Regions from separate parts of the Homo sapiens genome. Here regions 1, 2 and 3 are each linked to region 4. Evidence: fine-mapped expression QTL. A gene starts in region 4. Each other region holds a variant in brackets. All regions are shown on one strand. Distances are between the middles of the regions. Region 1 overlaps OR6J1 (olfactory receptor family 6 subfamily J member 1). Region 2 overlaps AJUBA (ajuba LIM protein). Region 3 holds the start of AP1G2 (adaptor related protein complex 1 subunit gamma 2). Region 4 holds the start of RBM23 (RNA binding motif protein 23).

The links. PIP is the estimated chance that this variant, and not a neighbour inherited with it, causes the effect.
Region 1: its variant is fine-mapped to the expression of RBM23 in nucleus accumbens (GTEx, PIP above 0.99).
Region 2: its variant is fine-mapped to the expression of RBM23 in whole blood (INTERVAL, PIP above 0.99).
Region 3: its variant is fine-mapped to the expression of RBM23 in minor salivary gland (GTEx, PIP 0.98).

Annotation. Positions count from the first base shown.
Region 1 is chr14:22,637,519-22,642,662 of GRCh38, reverse strand. The region is part of intron 1 of OR6J1 (olfactory receptor family 6 subfamily J member 1); the gene reads left to right. Among named protein-coding and RNA genes, the nearest start is that of OR6J1, 4.3 kb to the left of the region's middle. The variant A/G (reference allele first, on the strand shown) is at 2,874.
Region 2 is chr14:22,968,565-22,973,708 of GRCh38, reverse strand. AJUBA (ajuba LIM protein) reads left to right here. Exons shown (of 8, transcript NM_032876.6): 8 at 141-2,532. The coding sequence ends at 266. Among named protein-coding and RNA genes, the nearest start is that of AJUBA, 11 kb to the left of the region's middle. The variant A/T (reference allele first, on the strand shown) is at 3,197.
Region 3 is chr14:23,563,937-23,569,080 of GRCh38, reverse strand. It overlaps AP1G2 (adaptor related protein complex 1 subunit gamma 2), which reads left to right and starts at 1,290. Exons shown (of 22, transcript NM_003917.5): 1 at 1,290-1,342; 2 at 1,762-1,970; 3 at 2,395-2,519; 4 at 2,662-2,803; 5 at 2,921-3,017; 6 at 3,189-3,265; 7 at 3,380-3,475; 8 at 3,882-3,962; 9 at 4,421-4,519; 10 at 4,693-4,748; 11 at 4,922-5,035. The coding sequence starts at 1,767. JPH4 (junctophilin 4) reads left to right here. Exons shown (of 6, transcript NM_001146028.2): 6 at 1-1,043. It overlaps AP1G2-AS1 (AP1G2 antisense RNA 1), which reads right to left. Exons shown (of 4, transcript NR_110555.1): 2 at 4,241-4,354; 3 at 1,659-3,625; 4 at 1,005-1,392. RefSeq lists silencers at 99-198, 1,188-1,237 and enhancers at 1,718-1,957, 1,988-2,077. The variant G/A (reference allele first, on the strand shown) is at 3,211.
Region 4 is chr14:22,917,134-22,922,277 of GRCh38, reverse strand. RBM23 (RNA binding motif protein 23) reads left to right here and starts at 3,129. Exons shown (of 14, transcript NM_001077351.2): 1 at 3,129-3,279. It overlaps PRMT5 (protein arginine methyltransferase 5), which reads left to right. Exons shown (of 17, transcript NM_006109.5): 16 at 38-102; 17 at 1,222-1,749. The coding sequence ends at 1,374. PRMT5-AS1 (PRMT5 antisense RNA 1) reads right to left here and starts at 2,822. Exons shown (of 2, transcript NR_120600.1): 1 at 1,158-2,822. RefSeq lists a silencer at 2,755-3,054 and enhancers at 3,315-3,384, 3,475-3,584, 3,655-3,824, 4,313-5,077.

The DNA of each region.
Region 1 (5,144 bases), 280 kb after region 4:
GGGATCATTAAAATATCCTTAAATCTGCCAGGCATGGTGGCTTGTCCCTGTAATCCCAGCACTTTGGGAGGTCAAGGCGGGAAGATCATGAGGTCAGGAGTTGGAGACCAGCCTGACCAACACGGTGAAACCTCATCTCTACTACAAATACAAAAATTAGCTGGGCATGGTGGCACACGCCTGTAATCCCAGCTTACTCAGGAGGCTGAGGCAGGAGAATCGCTTGAACCCTGGAGGTGGAGGTTGCAGTGAGCTGAGCTCGTGCCACTGCACTCCAGCCTGGGTGACAGAGCGAGACTCCATCTCAAATATATATATATATATATATATATATATATATATATATATATTCTTAAGTTGATTGTGGTGATGGACACACAGTTTTGTGAATACACTAAAAGCTATTGAATTGTATATTTTAAATGGGTGGAATGTATGGTACTTGAGTTATATATCAATAAAGCTGTTAAGAAAGAAAAGATCCTTGGCAATGCAAATGTGGTGAGTTGTCTGGAGAGACTGTCCATGTGCCAAGGCTATAGGAAGGTAGGGCAGGTCGTGAGGACAGGTTCTGTGCAGGAGTGGCTGATGTTCTGACTCAGCTTAGATGGGCAGAGGTCAACTCAGTCCTCGGGATTTCTGCAGTCCTCTTCCTTTACTAGATTATTCTTGTTTTTCCTAGTCCAATCCATATTCTTCTTAGTCACTGGTAATTACGTGGCCTCTGCTATCCAGAGTCCTTCCTAGGTATAGAAGCCCTATTTGACCTTGTCCCTGGAATCTATCAGTTTTCCTGGTAGTTGGTTTGCTTTCCAGACTAATGGCCCAGGACAAATATCCATGAAAAAACTTTGCCGTCCCTTAATTTTTCCTCTGTTTCTGTGATTTTTCTGAAATCAGGTTTCTTCACATCTCTTTTAGACTGAAAGCTGTGCGAGGGCATGCAATTTTTTTTACCATCTCTGCAACCTTTCATCAATCGCAGGCCCCACAACATAGTTGGCACTCAATATGTGTTTGCTAATATACATTTTCAATCCAACTATGTATATATATATATATCCTTTTAGAATAATTTTCTTTCCTTCTTTCTTTTTTCTTTTTCTTTATTTCTTCCTTCCTTCTTTCTTTCCTTCTTTCTTCCCTCCCTCCTTTCTTTCCTCCCTCCCTCCTTCCTTCCTTCCTTTCTTTCTTTTTCTTTCTTTCTTTCTTTCTCTCTCTTTCATTCTTTCTTTCTTTCTCTTCCTTCCTTCCATCCTTCCTTTCTCTCTCTCTCTCTTTCTTTCTTCTCTCCCCCCTTTCTTTCTTTCTTCCCTCCCTCCCTCCTTTCTTCCTTCCTTCCTCTCTCTCTCTTTCCTCTCTGTCTCTCTTTCTTCTCTTTCTTCCTTCCTTCCTTTCTTTCTTTCTTTCTTTCTTTCTTTCTTTCTTTCTTTCTTTCTTTCTTTCTTTCTTATCTTTCTCTCCCTCTCTGTCTCTCTTTCTCTCTCTCTCTCTTTCTTTCTTCAGAGTCTCACTCTGTCACCTAGGCTGGAGTGCAGTGCTGTGTGATCATGGCTCACTGAAGCTCCTGGGCTCAGGTGATTCTCCCACCTTTGCTTCACAAGTAGCTGGGACAACAGCTGCATGGCACCATGCCTGGCTAATTTTTGTATTTTTCATAGAGGCAGAGTTTCACCATGTTGCCCAGGCTAGTCTCAAACTCCTGACCTTAAGTCATCCTCCCACCTCGGCCTTCCATAGTGCTGGGATTACACGCGTTAGCCACCATGCCCAGCTTAACTTCTTTTATATAAAAGGAATATTTGTTCATTGTAAAAAAAAATACTGAAAATATCAAGAAGAGGCTGGGTGTGGTGGCTCATGCCTATGATCCCAACACTTTGGGAAGTAGAGGCAGGAGAATCGCTTGAGCCCAGGAGTTTGAGACCAGCCTGGGCAACATAGTGAGATCCCATAGCTACGAAAAGTAATGGCAAAACCGCAATTACTTTTGCAACAACCTAATAGCTGGGCATGGTGGCATGCACCTGTGATCCCAGATTCTTGGGAGGCTGAGGTGGGAGGATCACTTGATCCAGGGAGGCTGAGTCTGAAGTGGGCTGTATGCTACCACTACTGCACTCCAGCCTGGGTGACAGAGTAAGACTTTGTCTCCAAAAAAAAAAAAAAAAAAAAAATACATTCTCACTGTTGGTTGAGCTGAAGTTTATTCATTTCTTTATTGTATATTCAACTCTGTGAGCATATCATGATTTATTCTCCTGTCTTTGGACACTGTTCCCTCCTTCTCTTTTTTCCCCCTTCCTTCCTCCTTTCCTCCCATCCCCTCTACCCTCCTCTCCTCTCCTCCCCTCTCCTCCCCTCCCTTCCCCCTTTCCTTCCTTCCTTCCTTCCTTCCTTCCTTGCTTCCTTCCTTCCTTCCATCCTTCCTTCCCTCCCTCCCTCCCTCCCTCCCTCTCTCTTTTCCCTCCCTCCCCCTCTCCCCCTTCCCTATACATATTCTTGTTTGTCTCCTGGGGCATATGTGCAAGTTTCTCTACCTAGGAGTAGAATTATTGGGTCACAGAGTATGTGAATGTTCATCTTTACAAGGTAATGACAAATTATTTTCCAAAGCAATTATATAAATTTATGCTCCCACTAGCAGTGTAAATTTTTTTTTTTTTTAAATTTATTTTTTTATTGATAATTCTTGGGTGTTTCTCACAGAGGAGGATTTGGCAGGGTCATGGGACAATAGTGGAGGGAAGGTCAGCAGATAAACAAGTGAACAAAGGTCTCTGGTTTTCCTAGGCAGAGGACCCTGCGGCCTTCCGCAGTGTTTGTGTCCCTGATTACTTGAGATTAGGGAGTGGTGATGACTCTTAAGGAGC[A/G]TGCTGCCTTCAAGCATCTGTTTAACAAAGCACATCTTGCACCGCCCTTAATCCATTTAACCCTGAGTGGACACAGCACATGTTTCAGAGAGCACCGGGTTGGGGGTAAGGTCACAGATCAACAGGATCCCAAGGCAGAGGAATTTTTCTTAGTACAGAACAAAATGAAAAGTCTCCCATGTCTACTTCCTTCTACACAGACACGGCAACCATCCGATTTCTCAATCTTTTCCCCACCTTTCCCGCCTTTCTATTCCACAAAGCCGCCATTGTCATCCTGACCCGTTCTCAATGAGCTGTTGGGCACACCTCCCAGACGGGGTGGTGGCCGGGCAGAGGGGCTCCTCACTTCCCAGTAGGGGCGGCCGGGCAGAGGCGCCCCTCACCTCCCGGACGGGGCGGCTGGCCGGGCGGGGGGCTGACCCCCCCATCTCCCTCCCGGACGGGGTGGCTGGCCGGGCAGAGGGGCTCCTCACTTCCCAGTAGGGGCGGCCGGGCAGAGGCGCCCCTCACCTCCCGGACGGGGCGGCTGGCCTGGCGGGGGGCTGACCCCCCACCACCTCCCTCCCGGACGGGGTGGCTGCCGGGCGGAGACGCTCCTCACTTCCCAGATGGGGTGGCTGCCGGGCGGAGAGGCTCCTCACTTCTCAGACGGGGCAGCTGCCGGGCGGAGGGGCTCCTCACTTCTCAGATGGGGTGGTTGCCAGGCAGAGGGTCTCCTCACTTCTCAGACGGGGCGGCCGGGCAGAGACGCTCCTCACCTCCCAGACGGGGTCTCGGCCGGGCAGAGGCGCTCCTCACATCCCAGATGGGGCGGCGGGGCAGAGGCGCTCCCCACATCTCAGACGATGGGCGGCCGGGCAGAGACGCTCCTCACTTCCTAGATGTGATGGCGGCTGGGAAGAGGCGCTCCTCACTTCCTAGATGGGATGGCGGCCGGGCGGAGACGCTCCTCACTTTCCAGACTGGGCAGCCAGGCAGAGGGGCTCCTCACCTAGCAGTGTAAATTTTTTAAGTCTCCACATCCTCGTCAACACTTGTTATTGTCATATTTTTGCTTCTTGACAATATAGTGGGTATAAAATGGTATCTTGCTAGTGTCTTAATTTTTTTTATTTTTTTTTTATTTTTATTTTTTTTATTGATCATTCTTGGGTGTTTCTCGCAGAGGGGGATTTGGCAGGGTCATAGGACAATAGTGGAGGGAAGGTCAGCAGATAAACAAGTGAACAAAGGTCTCTGGTTTTCCTAGGCAGAGGACCCTGCGGCCTTCCGCAGTGTTTGTGTCCCTGGGTACTTAAGATTAGGGAGTGGTGATGACTCTTAACGAGCATGCTGCCTTCAAGCATCTGTTTAACAAAGCACATCTTGCACCGCCCTTAATCCATTTAACCCTGAGTGGACACAGCACATGTTTCAGAGAGCACAGGGTTGGGGATAAGGTCACAGATCAACAGGATCCCAAGGCAGAGGAATTTTTCTTAGTACAGAACAAAATGAAAAGTCTCCCATGTCTACTTCTATCCACACAGACCCGGCAACCATCTGATTTCTCAATTTTTTCCCCACCCTTCCCGCCTTTCTATTCCACAAAACCGCCATTGTCATCATGGCCCATCCCCAATGAGCCGCTGGGCACACCTCCCAGACGGGGTCGTGGCCGGGCAGAGGGGCTCCTCACTTCCCAGTAGGGGCGGCCGGGCAGAAGCGCCCCTCACCTCCCGGATGGGGCGGCTGGCCAGGCGGGGGGCTGACCCCCCCACCATCCTCCCGGACGGGGCGGCTGGCCAGGCAGAGGGGCTCCTCACTTCCCAGTAGGGGCGGCCGGGCAGAGGCCTCCCTCACCTCCCGGACGGGGCGGCCGGCCGGGCGGGGGCTGACCCCCCCACCTCCCTCCCGGACAGGGCGGCTGGCCGACCCCACCCCCCCCGCCTCCCTCCCGGACGGGGCGGCTGGCCGGGCAGAGGGGCTCCTCACTTCCCAGTAGGGGCGGCCGGGCAGAGGCGCCCCTCACCTCCCGAACGGGGCGGCTGGCCAGGCGGGGGGCTGATCCCCCCACCTCCCTCCCGGACGGGGCGGCTGGTCGGGCGGGGGGCTGACCCCCCCCACCTCCCTCCCGGACGGGGCAGCTGGCCGGGCGGGGGGCTGACCCCCCCACCTCCCTCCCGGATGGGGCGGCTGGCCAGGCGGGGGGCTGACCCCCCCACCTCCCTCCCGGACGGGGCGGCTGGCCGGGCAGGGGGCTGACCCCCCCTCCCCCCTCCCGGACGG
Region 2 (5,144 bases), 51 kb before region 4:
CATCCCTTCCATCCTTCCCTTCCCACCCCATCCCTTTCTTCCAGTTATTAGGAGTCAGGTGTTGAGCAGGGCAGACTCCTAAGATACCCTCAGTGTCCAAGGTGCCTAGGCTGAGGTGAACTAGGTGCCTTCTTCCCTAGGACTGCCGGATGCAGCTGAGTGATGAGGAAGGCTGCTGCTGTTTCCCTCTGGATGGGCACTTGCTCTGCCATGGTTGCCACATGCAGCGGCTCAATGCCCGACAACCCCCTGCCAACTATATCTGAGCTGCAATCACTGCTGCTGCTGTCACCCTGCAGACAAACTGCTGTGGCCAGTGGGCCCCTCTGAGGCCAGCCAAGGCAAAGAATGCACTCTGCAGGCCTGGCAGAAGAGTCCTCTGGGGAGGACCCCAAGGGCCGGAGACCCAAAGATCATGATATTCCAAATGGATTGTGGAAGAGAAACCTTATATTTACCAGGGTGGGGGCGACTGGCCTTTTTCCCATGTGTGCAGTCTGAGCTTAGGCACACACAGGAGGGTTCCAGGACTTTCTGAACATCTGATTCTGTATCTTCAGTATATATATTTTGTTTGTTTTAGAGATGGGATCTCACCATGTTGCCCAGGCTAGTCTTGAACTCCTGGGCTCGAATGATCCTCCCACCTTGGCCTCCCAAAGTGCTGGGATTATAGGCGTAAGCCACTGTGTCTGGCCTAGTGTATGATTATGCATGAGTCACGCAATGTTCTGGTCCTGGATTCCAGGAGTAGAGGACCTAGCTTTAAATCAATTAGTTTCAGCTAAACTGACTAGAACCAAATCAAAGTGTAATTCTCCCTCCAGCTCCCCCAAACCCCAGAGTTTTGGGGTTGTGGTTGATGCAGTGTGGGATGTCCCTGAGAGGTAGCAAGTCTAGGGTGGTGAGTTCCTGCTAGGCAACCAAATTTAAGCTCCTCACTTTTTGTGACACATGGTGTCAGATATGGGGTCCCGCACCTATATCTGGATGAAGAGGTAGAAACTCTGGACCTCATTAATGAGTTATTTCTTGGCCTTCTTCTAAGGACTAGGAGAGCTCCTTATCTGTCTGAGAATGGGGACCAGCTCTGAGTGGGGTTGCTGCCTGTATTCCCTGTTTCTCAGGAACTTACATGGGTCTGGGGAGGCTAGGTAGGTGATTGTACGTGGTTGCTCTTCTCCTTGGCTGGGGGAGGTAATGAGCAGATCTCTGTGGGTGTGGAGCTTGTTGGGGGGATGTCTAGGAAGCTTCAGCTTAGCCACATTCCCAAGTTTAGGTGCACTGAGCCATATAGCCCAGTGTATGCATGTGTGGGTGTGTTCATGCACACACACACTCTCTCTCTTGTCTCTCTGTCTCTCTCTCACTCTTTCTTACTCTCTTCTCAGGTCACTTGTACACTTGGTTTCCTAGTAGAAGCTCACTTGCCACCTCTCAGAGGGGTCCCGGATTGCATCCATCACAATCCCAAAACTAGAGTTGGGGGGAACTGGAGGGAGCAAAACACTGATTTGATACTAGTCAGTTTGCTTGAAACTAGTTCACCTAAAGCTAGATCTCTTAAAACCAATTTACTGAAAACTTGTTTGCTTAAAGTTAATGACTTAATGACTAATTTGCCAAAAGCTCAATTCCTATTTTGGTGTGTTTATATCCATTTAGGTGTCCTATTCTTTTTTGTCATGCTTTGGATATTTCAAGGATTTATATCTATTCATCCAAGAGTACTTCTGAGCTATTATCAGCAACATAAATTTATCAAATTTGCAGCACTTTGTAAATGATGAGATTGCTTCCTACCTTTATGGATGTCTTTTTCTATGTTATCTACCATTCAAAAACTTTTTTAAAAAGTTTAAAGTTTCTAGCAATAAATACAATTGGTACAGACATTTTGTGTATCATTTTTTTGTTTCTTAATCCAATATTCCTTTACAAATTAAATGCCTTGAAAAATATAATGGAGTTCAATGTGATTTTGATGCTTTGGTCTAACTTCTACATTCCTACTGTTAAAAAGGCCAGTATATCTTAAACAAATGAATAGGCATGAGGCATATTCAGTTGACTTACAATGAAAAGTTATACAGACAACAGTAATAACTAAAAGGGTGAATCTGCTAAATCCTTTTGAAATGCTGCAGATTTGATAAATATTTATTTTAGACTAATTGGTTTTAGGTGAATTGGTTTTAGGCAAATTAATTTAGTAATCTTTGATCTTTAGTCTTCATTTTCTGTCACTCAGTGAGTTTCTTACTGGAAATGATGACTCCTGACAACAGAATTTCCACATTTGGGGGCTATTCTAAGGTGACTATGCCAGCCAACCTGGGAAATACATAAAAGAGATCTCTGAGTGAGAGGGAAAGAGGTCAGATTTATACAACTGAGCGCCAGAGGGGAAAATGCACCTTGTTGGAGTGAGAAATGTTCTGAAACTGAATTACTTCTTGTACAGCTGAGATAGCTTCTTCTGAACTATTATTAAATAAGTGAATACAAAGGCCCTATGATGGGAAATCCAGACAAGCTTGTGTAACTTTACATCCATCCCCTCAGGGATATTTTTTTTTTTTTTTTTTTTTTTGAGACAGAGTCTCACTCTGTCGCCCAGGCTGGAGTGCAGTGGCGCTATCTCGGCTCACTGCAAGCTCCGCCTCCCGGATTCACACCATTCTCCTGCCTCAGCCTCCCAAGTAGCTGGGACTACAGGCGCCCGCCACCACACCCGGCTAATTTTTGTATTTTTAGTAGAGACGGGGTTTCACTGTGTTAGCCAGGCTGGTCTCGATCTCCTGACCTTGTGATCTGCCTGTCTCGGCCTCCCAAAGTGCTGGGATTACAGGCATGAGCCACTGTGCCCGGCTCTCAGGGTTTTTTTTTTTGACAGAATCTCGCTCTCTTGCCCAGGCTGAAGTGCAATGGTGCAATCTCAGCTCACTGCAACCTCCGTCTCCTGGGTTCAAGTGATTCTCCTGCCTCAGCCTCCTGAGTAGCTGGGATTATAGGCCGGCGCCACCACACCTGGCTAATTTTTGTATTTTTAGTAGAGACAGGGTTTTGCCATGTTGGCCAGGGTGATCTCAAACTCCTGACCTCAGGTAATCCGCCTGCCTTGGCCTCCCAAAGTGCTGGGATTACAGTTGTCAGCCACTGAGCCCTGCCTCTTTTTTTTTTTTTTTTTTTTAAG[A/T]GTTGGGAGTCTTGCCCAGGCACAGTGGCTCACCCCTGTAATCCCAGCACTTTGGGAGGCTGAGGTGGGAGGATCATGAGGTCAGGAGATCAAGACCATCCTGGCCAACATGATGAAACCTCGTCTCTACTAACAATAAAAAAATTAGCCAGGCATGGTGGGGTGCACCTGTAGTCCCAGCTACTTGGGAGGCTGAGGCAGGAGAATCGCTTGAACCCGGGAGGCGGAGATTGCAGTTAGCCATCGCGCCACTGCACTCCAGCCTGGGCAACAGAGCAAGACTCCATCTCAAAAAGAAAAAAAAAGGCCAGGTGCGGTGGCTCACACCTGTAATCCCAGTACTTTGGGAGGCCGTGGCAGGCAGATCACGAGGTCAGGAGATTGAGACCATCCTGGCTAACACGGTGAAACCCCGTCTCTACTAAAAGTACAAAAAATTAGCCAGGCGTGGTGGTGGGCTCCTGTAGTCCCAGCTACTCGGGAGGCTGAGGCAGGAGAATGGCGTGAACCCGAGAGGCAGAGGTTGCAGTGAGCTGAGATCATGCCAGTGCACTCCAGCCTCGGCAACAGAGCAAGCCTCCATCTCAAAAAAAAAAAAAAAAAAAAAGAGTTGGGAGTCTCACTCTGTCACCCAGGCTGGAGTGCAGTGGCACAATTATGGCTCACTGCAATCTCTGCCTCCCGGGTTCAAGCGATTCTCCCGCCTCAGCCTCCCAAGTAGCTGGGACTACAGGTGTGCACAACCATGACTGGCTAAGTTTAAAAAATTTTTTTTTAGAGACAGCATCTCACTATGTTGCCCAGGCTGGTCTTGAATTTCTGGCCTCAAGTGATCTCCCACTTTGGCCTCCTAAGTCACTGGGATTACAAGCATGAGCTTCTGTGCCCAGCTCCTGACCCTTTGTTTCTTACTCTGATTTTGGCCTCTTCTGTTCCTGATCCGACTCATTCCTTTCTAGGTCTGTGCTGATTGTCCTAGCCTTGGGGCTCCCCAAGACTCTGTTCTTGCCACTGAGGCTACTTCTTCCTGAGGAAAAATAAATGATAACAGCTGATAAGGGCAGGCCATGAAAAAAGAGCAGTCCTAGCCACCCCAGCACCATCACTGGCAGGCTCCCAGGTGTACCCTGCATCACAAGAGCTTCCCTTCTTCCTATTTGCTGGGAGACTAATCCTCCTCAATATTTCTGTTTAGTATTTACAGTTTTTTAGTATTTACAGTTGATGATGAAAGATTCGTGAGGTGCTGCCAAATATACATCAAAAGGTGGAGCTTGTTTGGCCAACTTGCCACCTGATTTAATCAACAACTACTAGTGCTGAGATGCAGAAAGGGGGAAAATGGAGGAATTATGGACCAAGTCTGTCTTTATAGATGACAGTCACAGGACAAGGGTTAGGCTTTGACTGCAGACTTCAGTCTTTGCTCTGGCCAGCCCTGTTCACCACAGGCCTGAATGGGTTATCAAAAATAAAGCTGGTGGCCGGGCGCGGTGGCTCACATCTGTAATCCCAGCACTTTGGGAGGCTGAGGCAGGTAGAACACCTGAGGTCAGGAGTTTGAGACCAGCCTGGCCAACATGGTGAAACGCTATCTCTACTAAAAACACAAAAAATTAGTCAGGCGTGGTAGTGGGAGCCTGTAATCCCAGCTACTCGGGAGGCTGAGGCAGGAGAATGGCGTGAACCTGGGAGGTGAAGCTTGCGGTGAGCCGAGATCATGCCACTGCACTCCAGCCTGGGCGACAGAGCGAGACTCCGTCTCAAAGAAAAAAAAAAAAAAAAGCCGGGCGCAGTGGCTCACACCTGTAATCCCAGCACTTTGGGAGACCGAGGTGGGTGGATCATGAGGTCAGAAGATCAAGACCATCCTGGCTAACACGGTGAAACCCTGTCTCTACTAAAAAATACAAAAAAATTAGCCGGGCGTGGTGGTGAGTGCCTGTGG
Region 3 (5,144 bases), 650 kb before region 4:
CTCTAATCTTGGAGGCTATTATCTTACCTCCAAGCACTGAGCTGGGTTACTGCCCAATTCCATCCTTCCCTGAAGGAGAGAAGGGAAGTGAAAAGTAGAGTAACTCCCCAGCATTTCCCTCTTTTTCTCCTCATCGGCCAGCCCCTCCTCCAGCCCCCTCTGGTGGCATGCCATGCCAAGAGCAACGTGTAAAGGAACAGAGAATATCCAATGCAGTCAAGTCCACCCTGCCCAGACTTTGCCACTGACTTCTCCCACCCTTCTGTCTCCCCCATAATAGTTTATTTGGTTGGTCTGGACTCACTTGTGGCCTTTGATTAAATTCCTAAGGGGCCTGAAGAAGACATTTCTACTGCAGAGGGTTAGAGGCACTTGAGCAAGGCCCCCACATCCCAACTCTGGGAGTTGTGGTGGGAGGAGGCACTTCTGGGGGATAGGACCAGACAAGATAACAGGAGCTCACATGGAAGCAGAAGCTGTGACAAGTTTAGTAGTCCCAAAATGGGTTATATCCCTTCCCCCTTTACATCAGAATCTTGTGAAATGGGAAAACAACAGAAGGAGGGGATCAAAGATAGCTGATCTCACATGCTTCCCAGGCAGGGCAGAGGTGGGAGTCAAACCCGGGTGACAGGTGGGTGGAGAGCCCTGTTTGAGGTTGTGGCTGATCCCTCTCTGGTATTAGTTTTTCCCCTGGGAGCAGGAAGCCCTAGGAAGAGGGGACTGCAGGGTCCCCAGGGGATCTTTCCTCCCTCCCCTGCATGAGGCAGAGGCAAGCTGCCTGCCAACCCCCTCCCTCAAGGAATGGCCTTGCCCAGGAATGCCCACCACACATACCCTCTTCTTTTTTTCTAGTCAAACTCTTGTTTATTCCTTGGCTTGCCTCCCTCCTTCCTCCCCTCTCAACCTTTACTTCTGATTTCTATTTCATGGAATTTGGGATTGAAGTTAAACTACAACAGTGCCGCCAACACCAAGTCTTGCAGGAAAAAAATACAAAGAAATTTAACAAAAAAAATATATTAATAAAAAAGTTCAAAAAAGGGGGGGGATTGTCATCTCCTTTGGGGTGCGATGGCTTCAAATCCAAACTGAGGCTCTCCGGGTGGTAAGGATGTGCGAGGAGGCCTCTTGAAGAACTCCAGGCCTATCATGCTGTCTCTCCGCTAAAGCCTGAGGCCCGAGGTCAGAGGATTCAGGAAGGCTCTGCAGTCGGCCCAGGAGGGCGGGGTCCCGTGGTGGAGGCGGGGAGAGGGAAGGACCGCACGGAGCACCAACCCCTGCTCGGCCCCGTACCAGGAAGCGCTGGGGGGCAGAGGAGCGGAGTTGAGGCAGAAGCCAGGTGAGGCTGGAGTCCTGGGGTAGGCAGGCTGTCGCTGCCGCTGCCGCTGCCTGAGATGGAAATCGGGGGAGGAAGCTCGCGGAAGAAACAGCGGAGGGTCGTGGAAAAAAAAGCAATGGCTGAGCTAGGGATGGGGTACCAGGTAGGGGGAGGAAACGGTAGAGAGAAATAGGTGGGGCTCCCGCGCATGCTCAATAGGAAGGGGCGCCGGTGGGGTGCGGACGCATGCGTAGTGGGCTTCTCGGGCGGTGGGGTGGGCGCGGAATTTGGAGACCCACTTCGGGAAAGGTAAAATGCGGGCGCAATTTTAGGGTACCTGTGGGACCCGGGCTCTTAGGGTCTTGACACAGGACGGGCCTGGGCCGAAAGCCCAGGCACGCCCGACCAGAGAGTGTTTCTCCACTCCCGGACTCTGCCAGTCAGGATGGTGGTGCCTTCGCTGAAGCTTCAGGACCTCATCGAAGAGATTCGCGGGGCCAAGACTCAGGCCCAGGAGCGGGAGGTGATCCAAAAGGAGTGTGCCCACATCCGGGCCTCCTTCCGCGACGGGGACCCAGTGCACAGGCACCGGCAGCTGGCCAAACTGCTCTACGTCCACATGTTGGGCTACCCCGCCCACTTTGGACAGGTACTGGCCAGGAATACCTCCCTCCTGAGCTTGATGAAGGCTAGTGGGGCAGAGTCCCAGACTCTCTCACCTGTTTATGCCCTGGTTTTTTAAATTCTACAATTTCAGAGTCTTCACAGCCTGCACTGCAAACCTCTTTCCCCATTGCTACCCCTACTGGTCATCAGCTGGCCTGAACCCTTCATTCTCTGGCCAGCCTCCTTTAGGGCAGGCATCTCCTCCTCTCCGCTCCCATCCTCCTCAACTCCTAGTTCCTCCTACCCACTAACGCCTGAATTTCCTAAGCTTCTCCTCTTGTTGAAGGGAGAGTGATGAGATATGATGCCCCACAGGTTAATCTGGTTTTAAAGAGGAAGATGGAACAGGGATGTGAGTGTCTATGGTTTCACCCCTGCCTCTTCCTGGTCTGCCCCCTTCACTATAGATGGAGTGCCTGAAACTGATCGCCTCCTCCAGATTCACAGACAAGAGGGTGGGCTACCTGGGGGCCATGCTTCTATTGGATGAGAGGCACGATGCCCACCTGCTCATTACCAACAGCATCAAGAAGTGAGAGGGTTCTGGCAATCACTTGGAATCAGGGAGATGGGAGAGTAGGGACCTTGGAAATCCCAGGGGACTGCCTGTTGTGGGTATTGAAAAGGACTGATTTTCTCAGAGGTTTGACTGACCGTCCTCCCAAACCCTGCAGTGACCTGAGCCAGGGGATTCAGCCAGTACAAGGCCTGGCCTTGTGCACTTTGAGCACCATGGGCTCTGCTGAGATGTGCCGAGACCTGGCCCCAGAGGTGGAGAAACTGCTCCTGCAGCCCAGTCCCTACGTGCGCAAGAAGGTGAGATGGCGGGACTCCTGGCACGTGCTCCTGCACACTGCCTGCTGCGTGCTATATAGTAGTAGATGCAGGGGTCCATCTCCTCTGACCCCTGTCTGAGGCCCCTGACCTCTGCAGGCTATTCTGACTGCAGTGCACATGATCCGGAAGGTCCCTGAACTCTCCAGTGTCTTCCTCCCACCCTGTGCCCAACTGCTTCATGAGCGTCACCATGGTAAGGCTGTGGGGCCCCCCATCCTTTGCTTCAGGTCTATGGACAGAAGAATTGAAAATCGGATGGGAACCCCAGCTCACAGGAGAAGGGTAGTGCACACACACAGGCACACACGCAATAGACTCTCTTGCCCCTGGCCCCCACCATTCACTTCCCCGACGCTGACCCCAGGCATCCTGCTGGGCACCATCAC[G/A]CTGATCACGGAGCTCTGCGAACGAAGCCCTGCAGCCCTCAGGCACTTCCGAAAGGTGGGCTGGTGAAGGGGCAGGCCCTGGGCCTGGAAGACAGGGTCAGTGGGGAAGGAATGGGGCTTTAGCTGGAGAGGATTAGAACGAATGCCCAAAGTTGTGCCCTCCCTCCAGGTGGTACCCCAGCTGGTACACATCCTCCGGACTCTGGTGACAATGGGATACTCCACAGAACACAGCATATCTGGAGTCAGCGACCCCTTCCTGCAGGTGGGGTGACCTTTCACTGCTGTATCCCTGGATCAGAGAGGGCATAGCAGTAAGACCATGACCAGTGGTTTCCTCCCAGAGAACACTGGTTCTCTCAGTGTCCTGGGCAGCAGAGTAGCAGGCACAGGATTGCTCGGGTCATCCCAGGACCTGTGAGGGGAGAGGGAATGCCTAAAAGTCAGGAAAATACAGTTTGTTAACAATTTTTTTTTTAAGCCTGTCCTAAACTCCCCTGGCCTCACACACCTCTGTTCCCCTCCTAGGACCAAGGGACCTGTGGAGGTGAGGAGGTGGGGGAAGGCTCTAGGGAGCGAGCCAGACCCTCACATGTTGGAGTTTTCTCCTCAGCCCCACGACTCCTTATCCTATGAACCCCTCCAACTTTCCATTTTCAACCCAACCTCAGGTCCAGATACTTCGTCTGCTTCGGATCCTGGGCCGGAACCACGAGGAGAGCAGTGAGACCATGAATGACTTGCTGGCCCAGGTGGGGCCTGGGAGGGCACTGGTTAGCTGTGTTGCTTGGAGACCCCATCAGCCCTGGGTGCCCCTCACATGACTCGTCACTGTGCAGTGGCCGTGTAATTGCCTCTCCATCTCCTCTAGACAGTGAACTCCATGAAGAAGGGACACAGTCTGTCTTAGTGCTATTGCCCCAGTGCCCAGGCTGGCCCTGGCACATAGTAGAGCCTCAGGGAACTTTGTTGGATGGTTGAAGGATGGACAGATAACATGTTGGAGTCCTTCAAGAATCCTGAGGATTACCTGGGCTTGTTGGCATGTGCCTGTAGTCCCAGCCACTCAGGAGGCTGAGGCAGGAGGATCATCAGAGCCTGGGAGGTCAAGGCTGCAGTGAGCTTTGGGCGACAGAGTGAGACCCTGTATCAAAAAAAGGAGACCTGAGGAGGGCCTTGAGCAGATACATCTCCTCTCTCATCCACTCAGGTGGCCACTAACACGGACACCAGCCGAAATGCCGGAAATGCGGTCCTGTTTGAGACAGTACTCACCATCATGGATATCCGCTCTGCAGCTGGCCTACGGGTATCACCCCTTATGCCTCTCCCACTACGGCCCCGCCCACCACCTCACCCACACAGGTCCTGCTTGCTGGTTTCTCCCTCCTAGCCCCATCATCTTGCGCCAATGTGTTCCCAGTCCTCAATGGCTGAGCAGGTTGCTCCTTTCCGACTGACCCCAACTTCTGCCTCTCATAGGTTCTAGCTGTCAACATTCTTGGTCGCTTCCTACTCAACAGTGACAGGAACATTAGGTAATAGTCCCAACTGTCTACCTAGGCTGTGCCACTGATCCCCTGGCCCTCTGCCCTCCTTCCTCCAGAGCCTCCTGATCCATTTCTCTCTTATCTTATCCCTATACCCAGGACAGGACGGGGAGTGGGGGCTGATGGCCATGGTATGATAGAACCTCCCCCATCCTGACCAGGTATGTAGCCCTGACATCACTGCTTCGACTGGTGCAGTCTGATCACAGTGCTGTGCAGCGGCATCGGCCCACTGTGGTGGAATGTCTACGGGAAACTGATGCCTCCCTCAGCCGGTGAGCAGTGATAGAGGGGACAGGAGGGCAGGGCAGAGGTTCCCAGTGCCCTGTGGCCAAGACTCGAGCCAGTTTAGAGCAGCTGGAGTAAGGGGACTAAGGGGGACAG
Region 4 (5,144 bases):
TGGAGACCTCTGTTTTTTCATTATTTTGTCCACACAGGTATCCGTCCAGAGACTCACTCTCCTGGGATGTTCTCATGGTTTCCCATCCTCTTCCCTATTAAGGTAGGAACTGCTTTTAAGACTCTCTAGTTAAGCAGTAACCTTTGCCTTTGGTGTTGTGCTTCTTTCCTTCTCCCAGGAAGATAGTTGACTATGACTCATGTTCTCCTGATTTCATATGCTCTTGGATCCCAGTGGTAGGTGTTGGGAGTATTTGGAGTGGCCTTCTGCCTGGCTTTCCCGCATCTACTCTGGCTACTCTTCTGTCTGTTCTCTACTTTGAGCAAGAGTCATCTTTTAAAAACTCAAATTTGATCTTATCTCTCTTGCTGTCTTTTTTTTTTTTTTTTTTTTAAAGAGACGGAGTCTCACTCTGTCGCCCAGGCTGGAGTGCAGTGGCACAATTTCGGCTCACTGCAAGCTCCGCCTCCCGGGTTCATGCCATTCTCCTGCCTCAGCCTCCCTGAGGCTGAGATTACAGGTGCCAGCCACCACACCCGGCTAATTCTTGTATTTTTAGTAGAGACGGGGTTTTACCGTGTTAGCCAGGATGGTCTCGATCTCCTGACCTCATGATCCGCCCACCTCAGCCTCCCAAAGTGCTGGGATTACAGGCGTGAGCCACCGCGCCTGGCCTGATCTTATCTCTCTTTTTTGCTTAAAACTCTTCAATGCCTTCCCATTGTCTTTAGGATAAAAGTCAAAATCTGGGACATTGCTTGTAAGACTTGATGTGATCGAGTGTTTGCTTGCCTTTGCAGCTACTGTCCCCTTGCTTACACTGCTTCAGCCTTATGGACCTTCTTTTTGTTCTAATTGTCTATCTTCTTTCCTACCTCAGGCTTTCATGCCTTTCTCTTGCCTGTAGAGTTCTTTGCTTGTCTCTTCACACAGTTAACCTATCTTCTAGGTCTTCTTTAAACATTTTTATTGTGAGATAAACTTTCTCTGATCTCCTAGACTAGGTTAGTGTTCCCTTTCATAGGTGTTTTTCTGACTCTGTACATGTTCACAGCTCTCACCACACCTTTGATTATTTGTGTTCTGATAGGCTTCAAATAACTTTCATGAGGGTTGGGACAGTCTTGTCATGTTTATCATTTTATCTCCACACCTACCTTAATACATTGCCATGTATAATTCATAGCTTCACCCTGAACCTTCCTGTCTTTCTTCTTACAGCAGCCCATAACGGTACGTGAAGGCCAAACCATCTGTGTGCGTTTCTGGCGATGCAGCAATTCCAAGAAGGTGTGGTATGAGTGGGCTGTGACAGCACCAGTCTGTTCTGCTATTCATAACCCCACAGGCCGCTCATATACCATTGGCCTCTAGCCCTGCGTGCCAAGTGTCCAGAGCCTTGGAAGCAGCTTCAGGTTCTGCTCCTGTAGTACAGAAGGTGCAGTACATCTATGGGCTGTGATTCCCCTTGCCCATCAGAGAGGAGCATTTCAATCTGCTTTCCTGCCTTACATCAAGGTGGGCAAGGGATTATAATTAATTGCAGGGCTCAAGCCACCAATCTATGAAGACCTCAGGCCAGGGGGTGAGGAATTAGTGCTGGATTTGAAGCTACGCACTCAGCCTCAAGAACTCCCTGGAATATCCCTGAGAACATGGGGTTTGAACGGATTTTCAGCCTTTTTCTGTTCTTGTTTTGATGGTTTTGTGTAAGAGGAAATACAAATAAAGTTATAGCCCTTTACTGCACGACCATGCTGCCCCCTGCCACTATTTTCCCACACCTCACTTAGACCCAGGCATGTTCAGATCTGTCCTCTTAGCCTATCCAAGACCCAAAGGGGCCTAGTTGTATTCCCTACTTAGGAAGCTGAGCAATGACTATTGTAGTCCTGGATATAGGCCTTTCTGACCAGCTACAGTGAGCTCTTGTCCATTAGAACCTACAGTTAGGCTTTTCTCTGGGGAGGAGGCATAGAGTTTGCCACCTTGGAAAAAGATGGAATAGTGAGTGAAGCCAGTTTCTCTTCTGTATTCTTGAGCTACTGCACGGGCAACTGGTTACCTCTCCTTTGTTACCTCTTGGGAAGACTGGAATCCATCCAGGAATCTCCAGCAAGAAGCTACCTGTTTTTTTTGAATAAAACCACAGGGTTACAGTTTGAAGTCCTAAGAGATCATCTAGTCCAATTTTCCATTTTACAGAGGGGGAGTTTGAAATGGGTACAATGATGTGATATTAGTATCCAAGTCAGAATTGGAAGTCAGGTCCTCCGACTCTGGCTCTCCCCATGTTATAACCAGCTACATTTTTGGTAGCTACAGTAGACCACAGAAGTGTCTAGGGGCTCCTGGAGGCCCCTGGAAAGTGAGGGTGGACATCAGTTCCTTCTTTCCGGTTAGAGGACTCAGTACTGCTACATCCAAGGAGTCACCTGAGAAACTTTCAAATTTACCCTTGCAGTGGGAAATGTGGGGGTACTGATTTGAACGGAAGTTATGACCTGTGGGAGCAGGCCATGACGATAGGGCAGAGTGTGGGCCAAGACAAGTCTGTGGCAAGATCTGCTTTTCCCTGGTCCCAAGCACCGAGGTCAGGAGAGGTGGTCGGGAAGGTTGTTTAGGTAGCCGGCTCAGAACGGGGATTTCGAGTTCAGCATCCCCGGACGTTAAACAAACGCCGCTGTTCTCTACAAAGCTTAACCTTAACGACCGACGTGACTCCTTCAGCAAATCCGAGTAGGGACGGCCAAGGATGTAAATTGTGCCTCCTCGTTGGCTCCGCCCATCGCACTGGTCTAGTCTACGCGAGCACCAGGAGTGGGGTTGGTGGCTTCTTCACTCCCGTTTTCAGTCCCGTTTTCCCCGCCCTCCGCAAGTCATTTAACCAATGAGAGAGTGATGGGCGGCTACCAAAGGACGCTTCCATTTTCTGGAGTCTCTGAGGTTAGCCAATCAATGGGAACTCGGTGGTTGCTAAGACGCATTTGAGTTTGCTCCACCCATACTTAGGACTTTAGCCAATGAGAACCTGTACTTTGGACGGTTGCCGCGAAACCAGTGAGGTTATTTCCAAAGCCGGGGAGTCTTGGCGCATGCGCAGATTGGGGAAGGTTCTGGAAGACGGCAGAGCTGCCGCCATTTTGCGGGAAGAGGAGGCTCTGTACCTGCAGTGCTGCTTTTCTTGCCTAGACTCTAGGAACTATCCGAGCTCCACTCCCCACAACATACTCAAAGGAACGGAGAGAACCGGGACCCCCCTGCGGGGACCCGGAACTGGTGAGAAACCCCAAAACCCGGTCCCCACCAGACGTCACCAATGCGTGACGTTGCTGCACGGCGCCTCCCCCCTGACGTCACGGGCAGAAAATGGCGTCACGAAGAGATTCAGGCGAACTTTTAACATTAAAAAAACCTTTGTTTGTTTTGACCTGGAAGTGTTAGCTACTTAAATGTAGCCCACTGCCACGATTTTAGAGTTGGGCACCCTCGTGGCTGTATCTTGCACCGATAAAGATGCGGTTTCTAGAATCCTGTGATTTTTCTTTCCGGGTCTCTGCAGCCGTGACACTTAGGGTCGCCCACACTGGAGAGGGAGCATCGACCCTCCGCGGCCTGAGAGGACACGCATCATCAGTTTCAGCCACTCGCACCACCATTCAGAGAGAGAGAAGGGAATTGAGCTTTCTTCCTCAATCTCTAGTCTGTCGAAGATTCATGTTCACTATGTTGACCTTTATGGGCTTTTCCCATTTAACTTTTTCAAGCACTCATTCCAGTAGGCGTATTATGATGCCACATATGAAGATTGAGCCCTGGGACACTGGCTCCCGCAGAGATTGTGCCAGTTGGTTGCCTATAGGACCTCTTTTTTTTTATTTTTTTAAGGCGGAGTGTCGCTTTGTCACCCAGGCTGGAGTGGAGTGGCGCGATCTCGGCTCACTGCATCCTGTCTCCCGGGTTCTAGCGATTCCCCTGCCTCAGCCTCCCGAGTAGCTGGGATTACAGGCGCCTGCCACAACGCCCGGCTAATTTTTGTATTTTTAATAGAGATGGGGTTTTGCCATGTTAGCCAGGCTGACCTCGAACTCCTGACCTCAGGTGATCCACCCGCCTCGGCCTCCCAAAGTGCTGGGATTACAGGCGTGAGCCACCGCGCCCGGCCTATAGGACCATTTTTTAAAGCTACACAACATGGGGAGGGTGGTCCTTCAAGTAGCTTTTATCGTTCTCATTGTTCCTCTTTTGTTAAGCTGCCTTCAGTTTGTAGGTGTTTGTGCCCAGCTAAGTGATCAGACCCTGGGGATGGCGCTACCATCACCCCTGGGGCTCCAGCTTTTCGTGAATTCTTCCCGAATTGGTCTGACAGTGGTTCTCTCTGCTCCTTTAGCAGTGGGGTCTATCTGTTGGCTTGTGCTATGACGAGGTCTAGGAACTGACGTGATTGTGGGTCTCTAATACTGTTTTTGGAGCAGGATGGAAGAAAACATACTCTATGTGGATGAGATTGAGTGGACCTTGACCCATAAGTTGGGACATGAAGAGAGCGTTTGAAAACTACCAACCTGGGCCGGGTGCAGTGGCTCACGCCTGTAATCCCAGCACTTTGGGTGGCCGAGGCGGGCGGATCACGAGGTCAGGAGATCGCGACCATCCTGGCTAACACGGCGAAACCCCGTCTCTACTAAAAATACAAAAAAAAAACAAAAAAGAAGAAAAAAGAAAAAACTACCAGCCTGAAAATGCATAGTGTTTGCTACCTTATTGCTTTTAGCACATCTAGAAAGACACTAAACCCAGTGAGATTGCAAGTTTCAAAATATTGTGTTGTATATGGCTTTGCTTAAACGGATATATTTGTTTCTGAGTGAAAACTTTTTACGTAGAGGTTTATTTGTAGAGGCTTGTAAACTTAAGTGTAAGTTTTAGTGTGTGTGTTAAGTTGTTCTTACCCCGCATTAGCACTCAACAATGAGCAGTTCTTGAAATCAAGCATTTCATTTGGAGGGGAAAAAGCAGATTGTAAAAAATAGTTCATAACAGAAAATTTGTGTAGACTTGGCAGCAAAAATGACTGAAACAGCTTGAGTATAAAAAACTTTTCTTTTTAGGCCGGGCTCGGTGGCTCATGTCTGTAATCCCAG